2 separate regions of the Homo sapiens genome follow, and region 2 is linked to region 1. A link means that fine-mapping ties the variant in region 1 to the expression of a gene that starts in the linked region. Tissue or cell type: tibial artery. Region 1 holds a variant in brackets; the other region holds the start of a gene. All regions are shown on one strand. Distances are between the middles of the regions.

Evidence for each region.
Region 2: SEMA3C starts here. The variant in region 1 is fine-mapped to the expression of SEMA3C in tibial artery (GTEx, PIP above 0.99).

Annotation. Positions count from the first base shown.
Region 1 is chr7:80,880,096-80,885,484 of GRCh38, reverse strand. The region is part of intron 2 of SEMA3C (semaphorin 3C); the gene reads left to right. Among named protein-coding and RNA genes, the nearest start is that of SEMA3C, 36 kb to the left of the region's middle. RefSeq lists an enhancer at 989-2,188. The variant A/T (reference allele first, on the strand shown) is at 2,143.
Region 2 is chr7:80,917,026-80,922,414 of GRCh38, reverse strand. It overlaps SEMA3C (semaphorin 3C), which reads left to right and starts at 3,364. Exons shown (of 18, transcript NM_006379.5): 1 at 3,364-3,587. RefSeq lists a silencer at 3,098-3,227 and an enhancer at 3,775-3,844.

The DNA.
Region 1 (5,389 bases):
CCACCATGCCTGGCTAATTTTTTCATTTCTTTGTAGAGATGGGGTTTGTCATGTTGGTTAGGCAGGTCTTGAACTCCTGAGCTCAAGCAGTCCGCCCACCTCAGCCTCCCAAAGTGCTAGGATTACAGGTGTAAGCCACCAAGCCCAGTCATCCAGGTTTTTTAAGAAGGCAAAAACTATTCCTTAAACAATTTACCTAGGGATAAAAGAGGGGGAAAATGTAGAGAAGAGCTATCTTCCAAATGTCTGAAAACAAACAAACAAAAAAAGGTATTAGATTTCAGACATCAGGTGATACTCTGCTTCAGAAACAATATATTGGGAAAAATCCTGAGTTGCAAAACTATTAAACCAGTTAACACGTTTAATTATAAGAATTGTCTTTCTTGTCTCATTCTAAAGAGAAATGTCATCACAAAACGATAATCTTATGAAAGCTTTCAAGTACAAGGATTTCATAAAAAGAATGAATTCTACTCAACAGTAAAATATTTTGCTTGTACTTTGTGGGAACCAAATATTTTTAGAAGATTTTTTAAGAGCATCTAATCTGTATTTTTAAAATGCCGGTACTGGCCTTAATGTTTATTATTCTCCAGTTCTTTACACAGTGTTCCTACACCGTCAACATATTATCACAACCTGGTTTTTGATTTGTTATCACAATCTTGTGACCTTTAAGCAGAAATTTATGGTGTACATCAAAGCAGTAATAAACACATAAAGAAATTCTTCTACAAAGAAACAGTCACTTTACTATTTCTGCTGAACATGTGTTTAGAGTTTACATCTTGGTTACCTTGCACTAGCTTCCATGGCAGACAAAGCCGTTGTTTGTATGAGAGTGAACTGCTTACATTCTCGCATCAACACTTTCCCTCAAAAGCTGAAGTTTCCCTCTGCTTGCCTCTTCTGTTTAGACTGATGGAAAATATTTGCTACTTATCTTCACTACAGAATTGTCAATACAGAAGTCTGTAAAAAGTTTCATTAATTTATTCATCCTTTTGAATCATAGGAGTCTTTTAAAAAAATCGGATATATTTACAGAGTATCTAATGTTTGATAAGTTAGTTATGAGGGTCTCACATTTTTGTAGCGGTTAGGAAGAGACAATGTAGTTAAAAGTCCTCTATGTTAGAGTCAAGAAACTTGTTCTTGATGCTTTCACTAAGAGACTCATGATTTTGGACTAATCTCAATTTTGAGATTACCTATAAAATGTGGAAATTCAGATGGATAGTTATGTCTTAAATATTTCACATCTTTTAGGAGAAACAAGTTGATTGTATGAGATTTCATTTACATCTGTCTGCATATAAAATCGGGTAAATTTCTTGGGCTTTCACTTTTTTTATAACAATAAAATGAAAATGAGCTTATTAATAGATTAGAATTAAAATTCAAAACTAATGCAATTCAAAGAAAATGTACCATGTTAACAAGTATTTTTGCCAAAATGGAATTTCTGCTCATAAAGTGGCCATGACAGTGACTTAAACCCTAGATGTTAGGAAACGACCTCTTGGATTTATCACAGTGCCTCACTCTTAGTTCAGACTCTTAAAAACATTTCTTGTGGGAAGTAATGACTGCTAAGTAAAAATGAAAGTTGAGCAATGATTCTTGTGAATTATGAGTTAATTAATGGTATGACTGCATTTTGTTGAAGTCTCATGATTTAAAGATGTGCTCATTTTTTTTGCTCATGATTTAAAGATGTGCTTTGATACTCTGAAGGACCAAAGGGCAGTGAATCACTGTAAAGCTGCTTTTGAAACATGCCTTAGGGCAAATTGTGAGCCTTCATTTGTGTCCAGAATGGAAGGAACAGCAAGAAGCATGGGTGAGTCATAGGACAAAAACACAAAATGTCATTCCAAAGACAGGGTGGTGACCTTATGTCTGAGTATGCAAAAATCCAACTGGGGAAGTAAGAGGCCTGATCTTAAAAGTTCATGTATTAAGGGAAAACCCATACTTTTATCTTAGGAGATTATGATTATATAATTAGTTTTGTTTGATAATTCAGATGAGTTACCTCTGATTCAGTTTGAAAGTATCCCAGATCAAGCACAGTTCAAACACAGACACTCCTGGGACTGGTTCTGCTTTTTGTGATTGGAATAAGGGGTCCTGCTA[A/T]GGTGTGTGCTTCTGTCCTCAGATTTGGAACAGAATCTAAATTCCATGTGTGACGTAACCTGCTTAGTCACAAGCAACATTTTCAGACCCCTTTCCTTTAATTTTAGAAGGAGGCTGTTGATTTGGTATAATTATTTGTTAATGAATGCATTTTGTGTTCATTGCTAAGTATAAAAAAAGCACATATAGGATAGCTTGTGGCGTATTAACAAATGCTTGAGAGATAAAATATAAAGGTATATAACAGTAAAACATGAAAGAAGTCATTCAAAGCAATTTACCTAATGAAAGAGAGAGAACGTGTTTCCTCAGAGATTCAGGTGTATCTCATGGCATCCTCTTTTGTATCTTTCAGGTGTATTTACCTTTAGTTTGTTGTTGTTGTTGTTGTTGTTGTTATATAAGAGGGTTTAGGTAAATGTCACTTTCTGATAGGAGCCTCCTCATCAGGACCTTTTCTTTTTTAAATTTTCATATGTCTATTTTTATGTGAAAACTGTCCAAATAAAATATTTATATATAAAAGTTTTCCACATAACTCTAAAAGGGTTCTATTTGATGTCTTTACTGTATTATAGGACTTACAAAAAGAAAAGAAAAAGAATATATCCAATTAAAACAAGAAAGAACTCTTGAACCCAGCTATGCATACAAGAAAAATAAATTGTTTGAAGTGAGACATGAGGTAATCGAGACTCCTCAATGGGGAAAGTCAGTGCTCATCTGGCCCCTAGTGTGCCTGTTGAGCTGAAATATTTTATTGATGTGAGTGCTTAACAAATCACCAAATGCTCAGTGAATACCTATTATGTGTCATGAGCTCTATGAGGTAGCTTTTTTTCATACAGTCGTATTTTGGCAAATAAATAAATAATACGAGGCATAATTGACAGTGAAAATACCAAAAAAAAAAAAAAAAAAAAAAAAAAAGCATCCCTTACAAATTCCAGAATGTATTTTGAGGTTTCACTCAGCGCTATACAGTGATCACAAACTCCTTGCTATGGTTTAGTCTCTAAGAAAATAAAAATGCCAGAAGGTGTGTTACATTTCAGGCCAATAAAACAGACATTATTAACATCTCATTTTATTAATTGAGGTTGAGATTTTGTGTGGAGGCATTTTAGTGGTCTGATCCACACAGTATTGAGTCAGTGGCATTTTGAGAATGAGGTGTAGTGATTTGTGCTACATTTATAGTGACCAATAAGCTGTGATTGTAGTTCTTTTATATGCTGATGGTAAAATTTGTACTTCGTGGATGGACAGTGAAGGAACGTGGGCACTTCTTGTGTGCGCAAATACTTCTATATGCAACATCTTTCCTTCACTTGAGATATTTATGTTTTATTTAAATATAATACATTCAAAATATTTATTATTAAATCAACAACGTTGCATGAGTAGTTTATTTTGTGTTTTGTCCCCCAATAGATGATACTTGTATCCATACGTGGATAAACCTCCTCAGCCTTTTATGACACTCAGCAAGCTTTCTCTATCACAACAAATTTTATGTGGCTTGATATTTTCCCCCTCACACTGTCTTCATATTAATGCACTGCCTGTTTAGAGGCCCTACTAATGGGTTATCTCCATAAGGAACAATATGAATCTAATTCTCTAACCTTACTTCAACTCATTGCTGCTGCTGCTATGAAGCCAATTGTAAGCACAGTTAATTGTTCCCATGATTACTAAGACAAATATCACATGTAGGAGAGGTTTGATTTTCCATATTACAAAAGATAAGCTCTGGGAGAATTCAGCATTCAGTTTCCTAATCACTTACACATGTAAAATCACTTACACCCCTCCAGTGATGCCAGAAATTGTTCATTATTTCTTGTAAGTATTGTATAAAACTCAGAGTGCACTCAGAGGAAGTATCAATTCTGTTTTCTTAGAAACTAGTGTTGCTATGTTAGTGATAAAAAACAAAATGACTTCACCATAAAACACATTGCAAATTTCCATATAACTTACAGGTTATTTTCAGGTATATGAAAATGACAAAAAACCAGCTAAGAGACTATAAGTAGAACAATATTTGAGATTCATTTGGAAGAATAATCTTATTGGTCTTATTGACTTCTTGGTTAAAATGATTGAAAAACTTTACATGAGAGAGAGTGTGTGTGTGTGTGTGTGTGTGTGTGTGTGTGTGTGTGTGTGTGTTTCTTTCTCCAGGCAACAAAAGTAACAGGCATGAATTTTTTTGGTAGAAGATCATTCTTTATCAGAAACAACATCGTACATCCTTGCAATTAAATTAACTTCAGTAGATTATCATCAGAATTGTAATTTTATAAGAATAATTGTGATGGAATATTTGCAATGTAAGAGACTCCCTTAAAGGGTATGATGAGGTATTTCTTTCTGCGATCCGATTTACTTCTGTTTTTGTTTTTGTTTTTTGAGACAGAGTGTCTCTCTGTCACCCAGGCTGGAATGCAGTGATGTGATCTCAGCTCACTGCAGCCTTCACCTCCAGGATTTAAGCGATTCTTCTGTCTCAGCCTCCTGAGTAGCTGGGACTACAGGCACCTGTCAGCACGCCCGGCTAATTTTTGTGTTTTTAGTAGAGATGGGGTTTCACCATGGTGGCCAGGCTGATCTGGAACTCTTGAACTCAAGTGGTCTGCCTGCCTTGGGCTCCCAAAGTACTGGGATTACAGGCGTGAGCCACCACTCCCAGCCTGTGATTTGCTTTTGGGTAAGATTATGGCGTATACATGGAGGGAAGTAAAAGTGAACACATTTCAGTTGCATTTCCCCCCAGGCATAGATATTTTGAAAAATTTCTGTAAATTGTCCAACATGTATTTCTAAGATAAGCAACCACTATGATTTTTAAACATAGTGAGAATCACCACAGCATCAAATTCATTCATTCATTTAACAGATACTTAGCACTATGTGCCAGATACTGAGTTAGAGACTCAGAATACATCTTTGAACAGAACAAGTACTTGTACTATAGTGAATCTTATATTCTTGTGGAAGGAGACAGATAAAAAACACTAAACATGATGAATAAATTATTCACTATCTTAAACAATGATAGGTACTGTGGACAAGAAAACACAGAGTAGGTTAATGGTGTTCTGCAAGGATGGGGAAAGGGCAGACTGTGGTATTAAATGGTAGTCAGGGTTCGCCTCCTGGAGATGTTGAGATTTGAGCAAAGATTTGAATGGAATAAGGGACTTAACCAAGGGGATATCTGTGGGAAGAGCATTCCAGA
Region 2 (5,389 bases), 37 kb before region 1:
TAAGGCTGATGTAAATAAAGTAAGTAACCATTGGAAGTTGAGACTTTCCAAAGATACAGTTCAGGAAACTTAAAAGGATGGCATATGGAAGTTGAGTGAAGGAGAAAGAGAGGGAAGTAGAAAAGAGGAGAAAAATGTTAAGCAAAAAAGGTAAGAGGAAGTATTGAAACTTATTGAAAAACCTGAGACATTACGGCAATCACGCTTGAGTTTCTCTTCCTATTCTGATATTTACTACCCATTTGACTTTGGGCAAACCTTCAACGTTCTCTCATTGAAAATTGTAACTTCATTAAAGAATGCTATGCAGATAATAAGCAAAGTACCTCGCAAATACACAATCTATTTTCTATTACAAATATCAGTTTTTATGACTAAATAATAAGACAATTTTTAACCTCTGAATGATTAATATTCTCTGGTTAGGGTAAAGTTTATTTACATGACTCATCTGTATAATAGGGAAAAATCTGTTTTCTTTAAATTTGAAATAAGATAATGTATAGCTGCAGAAACTCCTGGAGAAAAGTATGTAACTCAACATCGGTGCTAGAGTTTTAAGTTAAATAGCATTCCTCAGGACCATCAAAAACATAAAATATTAAAAATATGCCCACTACACCTTGGCAGGCAGAGACACTTCAGTGTGTAAGATACTGCACCATTTCTAAAACGTCTTAATAAAAGTTATCCTAAGTATTTTAGTTTGGCCGCTCGTCTGAAACGTTTTGCTGGGTGCAAACATTGTAATTAGTGCTCTCTAAATTTAGTTGTGCCACTACTCCTGTAGATCCATTTAGTGTCCCCCTTACCGAAAACAGCGTTCTCAATTAGCTGTTGTTTTCCACTTGTAAGGACAGTCAAAGCTGAAGTCTTAAAAAAGTGGTAGTGCCCAGAAATGTTTCTTAGGCAAGTCTTGTTTTGTCAAGGTGTTTTAAGCAGTGTGGGGAAATGTGGGCAGAGATTAATCTTAGGGGCTTCTAGTGCCACTGTTAAAATTCCACTCTGTGGCCTAAGTCTCTGGCAAGCATGAGCACTGTGTCCTTGCGCTTGAATCTATCTTGGCTAAAGCCTATCAGTATTTTTATGATTCATTTTGAGGTGTGGCCAACTGTAAACGTCTCAGAGCTAAGCAAATACCATTAAATCCCAGGAGCACATTGAAAAGAGGTTTATTTGAGCAATATTGAGGGAATTTCGGCACAAATTTCATGGGCTGTGATTAAATCTAAGCTATTTGTCAAGGCCTCCAAACCCCTGAATGTGTAACAGATTGAGCTAATTCATTGGTGTTTGTAAATTGAGTTTGGAATTAAGCTCCTTTGTAAATACACCGTTTGAGATGCATTTCATCTTGCAACTCTTTATCGTGGTTTTCTCAAACTTAAAATGTATAAACGAATTCCATCTTACGTGAATTTGCTGATCAATTTCTAACAGCTCCACATTTCTAAATTAATTTAATCCACACACTCATCTTTCTAATGATTTATTCTTCTCCCTGCTTAATATATAAATGCCGAATGAGATATCAGAAGGAGGATAATAGTGGAGAGTATATAACCTGGATCTTACTCAGTTTCAGAAGTATTTCAGAGAAGCACGCACAGTGCTTATTCACATTGACATCTGGATTTTAATATTGTCAGTTTTTGGGGGGTTAAATTCCTTATTACAAATTTATGTCAAGGATCTTCTCACGCATCATCACAAAAAATAATTTTAACTGTTGTTACTATATTAATTTTTTGACGTTTGGAGATAATATTAGCCCTGGAATAGTATTTTTGAACTCATAAATTTGCATTATTTGACTTGATCCTTCGTTCCTTGACTATGCAGCGTGAGTCTGAGACACGTGTATGTTTACTGAACACAAGAGGTGGGCCCCAGACACATGAAAGATGTGTCTCACTCACCTCTTCCTCCTACCTGAGATTTCATTCAACTTTCCCACTGAACAATGATTTTGCACCCCCAGAGGGGTTTTCTATGATACAGTTTATAAGAATTTAATGATTGTTTCATTATGTGAATTGTCAGGTATAAGGTGGAGATATTACACTCCACGTTCCTTCTGTAGAGTGACATCTGCTGGGCTGTGCCCCACAGTGATTTTAAGCAAGTGCCTGCTTGTTTTATGGGGATCAAAGCTCATTTCTCCCGATGTTTAAACATCTAGTTTATTGTGGTCCGGAGAAGTAATTTTCACTTAAACATCAAAGTCAGTTCCAGAGTTTAACGAGTGTACCTGAAAGTAATGCTGGAAAAATACCTCTGATGTATTTCTGTAGATGTGTGGTTATGGCAATCTGTTGGCATAACTCAGAACAGCCTCTCCACATAGAATTGTCAAATAATTTCTTCGTGTAATTATGTTTGGGAGTATGGTTGGGGACAACGTACTGGATATGAGTCAACGTGGAGGGGTCAACAGAATTACTGCTTTCAGGGCATTAAGGAAACTCAATAGGAAACAATACCCATTAAAAGGATACACTTGTGCAACAAGATTGTCGTTTATCTTGACCTGTTTTAGAAAACACGCAACAGAGGCCCGGCGCGGTGGCTCTCGGCACTTTGGGCGGCTGAGGCGGGCGGACCATTAGGTCAAGAGATCCAGACCATCCTGGCCCTGTCTCTACTAAAAATACAAAAATTAGCTGGGCGTGGTGGTGGGAGCCTGTAGTCCCAGCTATTCAGGAGGCTGAGGCAGGAGAATCGCTTGAACCCGGGAGGCGGAGGTTGCAGTGAGCCATGATCACACCACTGCACTGCACTCCAGCCTGGCGACAGAGTGAGATTCCCTCTCCAAAAACAAAACAAAAAACAAAAAACAAAAAACAAAAAAAAAACGCAGCAGAATAAGGACAAAACTCACGTCCTTTTAAAAACGCATCTCTTTGCCTTAAAAGGCTGCAGTGATCCTTCCCTGGCAAAAATAAAAAACCACAACTGCTTTGCACTTTGATATTTACGGCCAGGCAAAGCCTGTGTAAGTCTTCGAGAGCCGCCGGCAACAAAAACCGTGGAGCGCACCCAGCAAGTTGCTCACTCCGCCGCGGACTGCGAAAGGAGCAGGGTTGCGGAGCTAGGGCTCCAGCCTGCGGCCGCGCATTCTTGCGTCTGGCCAGCCGCGAGCTCTAAGGGTCGGCCCCGCCCGGTCCGCCCCCGCGGCTCCCTGCCAGGCTCTCGCGGGCGCGCTCGGGGTGGGGCCTCGCGGCTGGCGGAGATGCGGCCGGGGCTGCGCGGTGGTGATGCGAGCCTGCAGGGCGGCGCGCCGGGGCAGCCGGAGCCGCGCGCCGCGGCGCTGTAATCGGACACCAAGAGCGCTCGCCCCCGGCCTCCGGCCACTTTCCATTCACTCCGAGGTGCTTGATTGAGCGACGCGGAGAAGAGCTCCGGGTGCCGCGGCACTGCAGCGCTGAGATTCCTTTACAAAGAAACTCAGAGGACCGGGAAGAAAGAATTTCACCTTTGCGACGTGCTAGAAAATAAGGTCGTCTGGGAAAAGGACTGGAGACACAAGCGCATCCAACCCCGGTAGCAAACTGATGACTTTTCCGTGCTGATTTCTTTCAACCTCGGTAAGCTAAATTGGTCATTTTCCGCATTACAGATTTAGCAAAGTATAACTTTTTTGGCCTGTATATTGATTTTTCATACATTGGTATGCTCAAGCCTGGACATTTTCTTAAGAACACACGCGGTTTGTCAGGGAAGCTTTCCCCTTGCTGAGAGCCCTGCTCGAGTTGTTTCTTTAGGCGGTGACACCTGCGGAGAGTTTCAAGTTGAGTATTACAGTGCCTTCAAAGGCAAAATTGCTCCAGAGGAGATAAGAGAATTCTTTTCTTAATGTGTTGTTAGTTTGCGATCAGCAGAAGTGAAAACACCAAGAGGAACGTCTGTGTCTGAGTTAAAGGGAAGAAGTTGTAAGATACTGTTGGGGAGGCGGGGGTGTATTTAAGACACTTGGCTTTCAGTCTTTCACTCCTCATCACTAGGTGGGATGTAAATCAAATTGCCCTGTAGACTATCTTCGTTTCACCTGCCATTGTATCACCAGTATTCTTTGCAATTGGTTGTATATGTACTTTTGGGAGAAACATATAAGGTAAGATACCAATATGTAAAAAAAATGTGTAAATAATATCAACTTGCTCAGTAAACATAACAAAGGTTAGGCATATTAATAGTTTTTTTCTTTTGGCTTTAACTATGAAGTCAACAGAACCAAGGGGTAAATTACTGAGGGAAAGTCACCCATAAAATCAGTTTCTTTCTAAGTTAATTTAGGGATGACAGGGTGAAGAGGTTGTGGAAGCAGGAAGAAACTGTTTCTTTTGAAAATTACCAACACAAACATCTCTAGAGTTTCCTCCATCTGTGTGGTAAAAGAAGCGTACAATTTCATTTCTAACTCTCATAACATATGCACCACCTAGGAAATCTACTTACAATTTTTGTTTAAAATTGCATATTCCATTTAATTCTTTTTATTCTGTATTAATGAAGCTGTCTTTTTCAGTTGTTAGTGGTTCTTACAAAGAATTTAATAATTTTGACTATGAAATTTTAATTTGAAAAGCCAAATAATGAAGATCAGCATTGTTGTAACCTGTAAAAATAAATTTCTTTACTGGACTCTTGGGTCACTTTATTGTGTAATTATGGTAGAAGCAAAATGATTGTGTTTCTTTAATGGTCCTGAGTTTATTTTACATGATGTAGCCACTAGAGCTCCTGTAGGTTTATGGTAACACATTATCTGGTCTTCCTTGGGATTCAGATATTAGTTAATAGCATGTACCAATTTTATATCTATAGTTTGAAGCAGTGACACCTGTCTCTTTGATTTATCTTTGGGAATTTTGACAGCCCACATTCTGGTTGATTTATTTAAAATATGCATTGGTGGATACATGGCTCACTGGATTGCTCACCACTAGGTCATTGGTTTGAATTTGGCACTAGTCCATGGTTACTTCAACTGCATCATTTAACAACTGCCTGTTGGTCATCTGGATAAAATGGCAGATAACTGATTCCAGTGACTTCAGTGATCCAGGATTGAGCACACATAGATTTATGTAAGGAAACACCACTTCCAGAGACAATTACTCCAAAAGAGCTAATGACTATTGAAGTGAGTAGGTACACATGAATGCTCATGTGAGATTTTGCTGCTGCTGTTACGTTAGTGGGGGGAAAGAGTTCTCATCCAGTAATATTCTTTTAGCTCAATTCTATTCAAGTCTTTTTAATGTAATGGATTTCTAGAGAGAAGATCCGTTAAAATATTGGGCTTTCCTTTGGGTATCAGTGTTTTTCTTCACTGCTTTGTTCTGTTTTGATGGTAGCATCAATTTGCTGGAAGATGAAAGTTTCT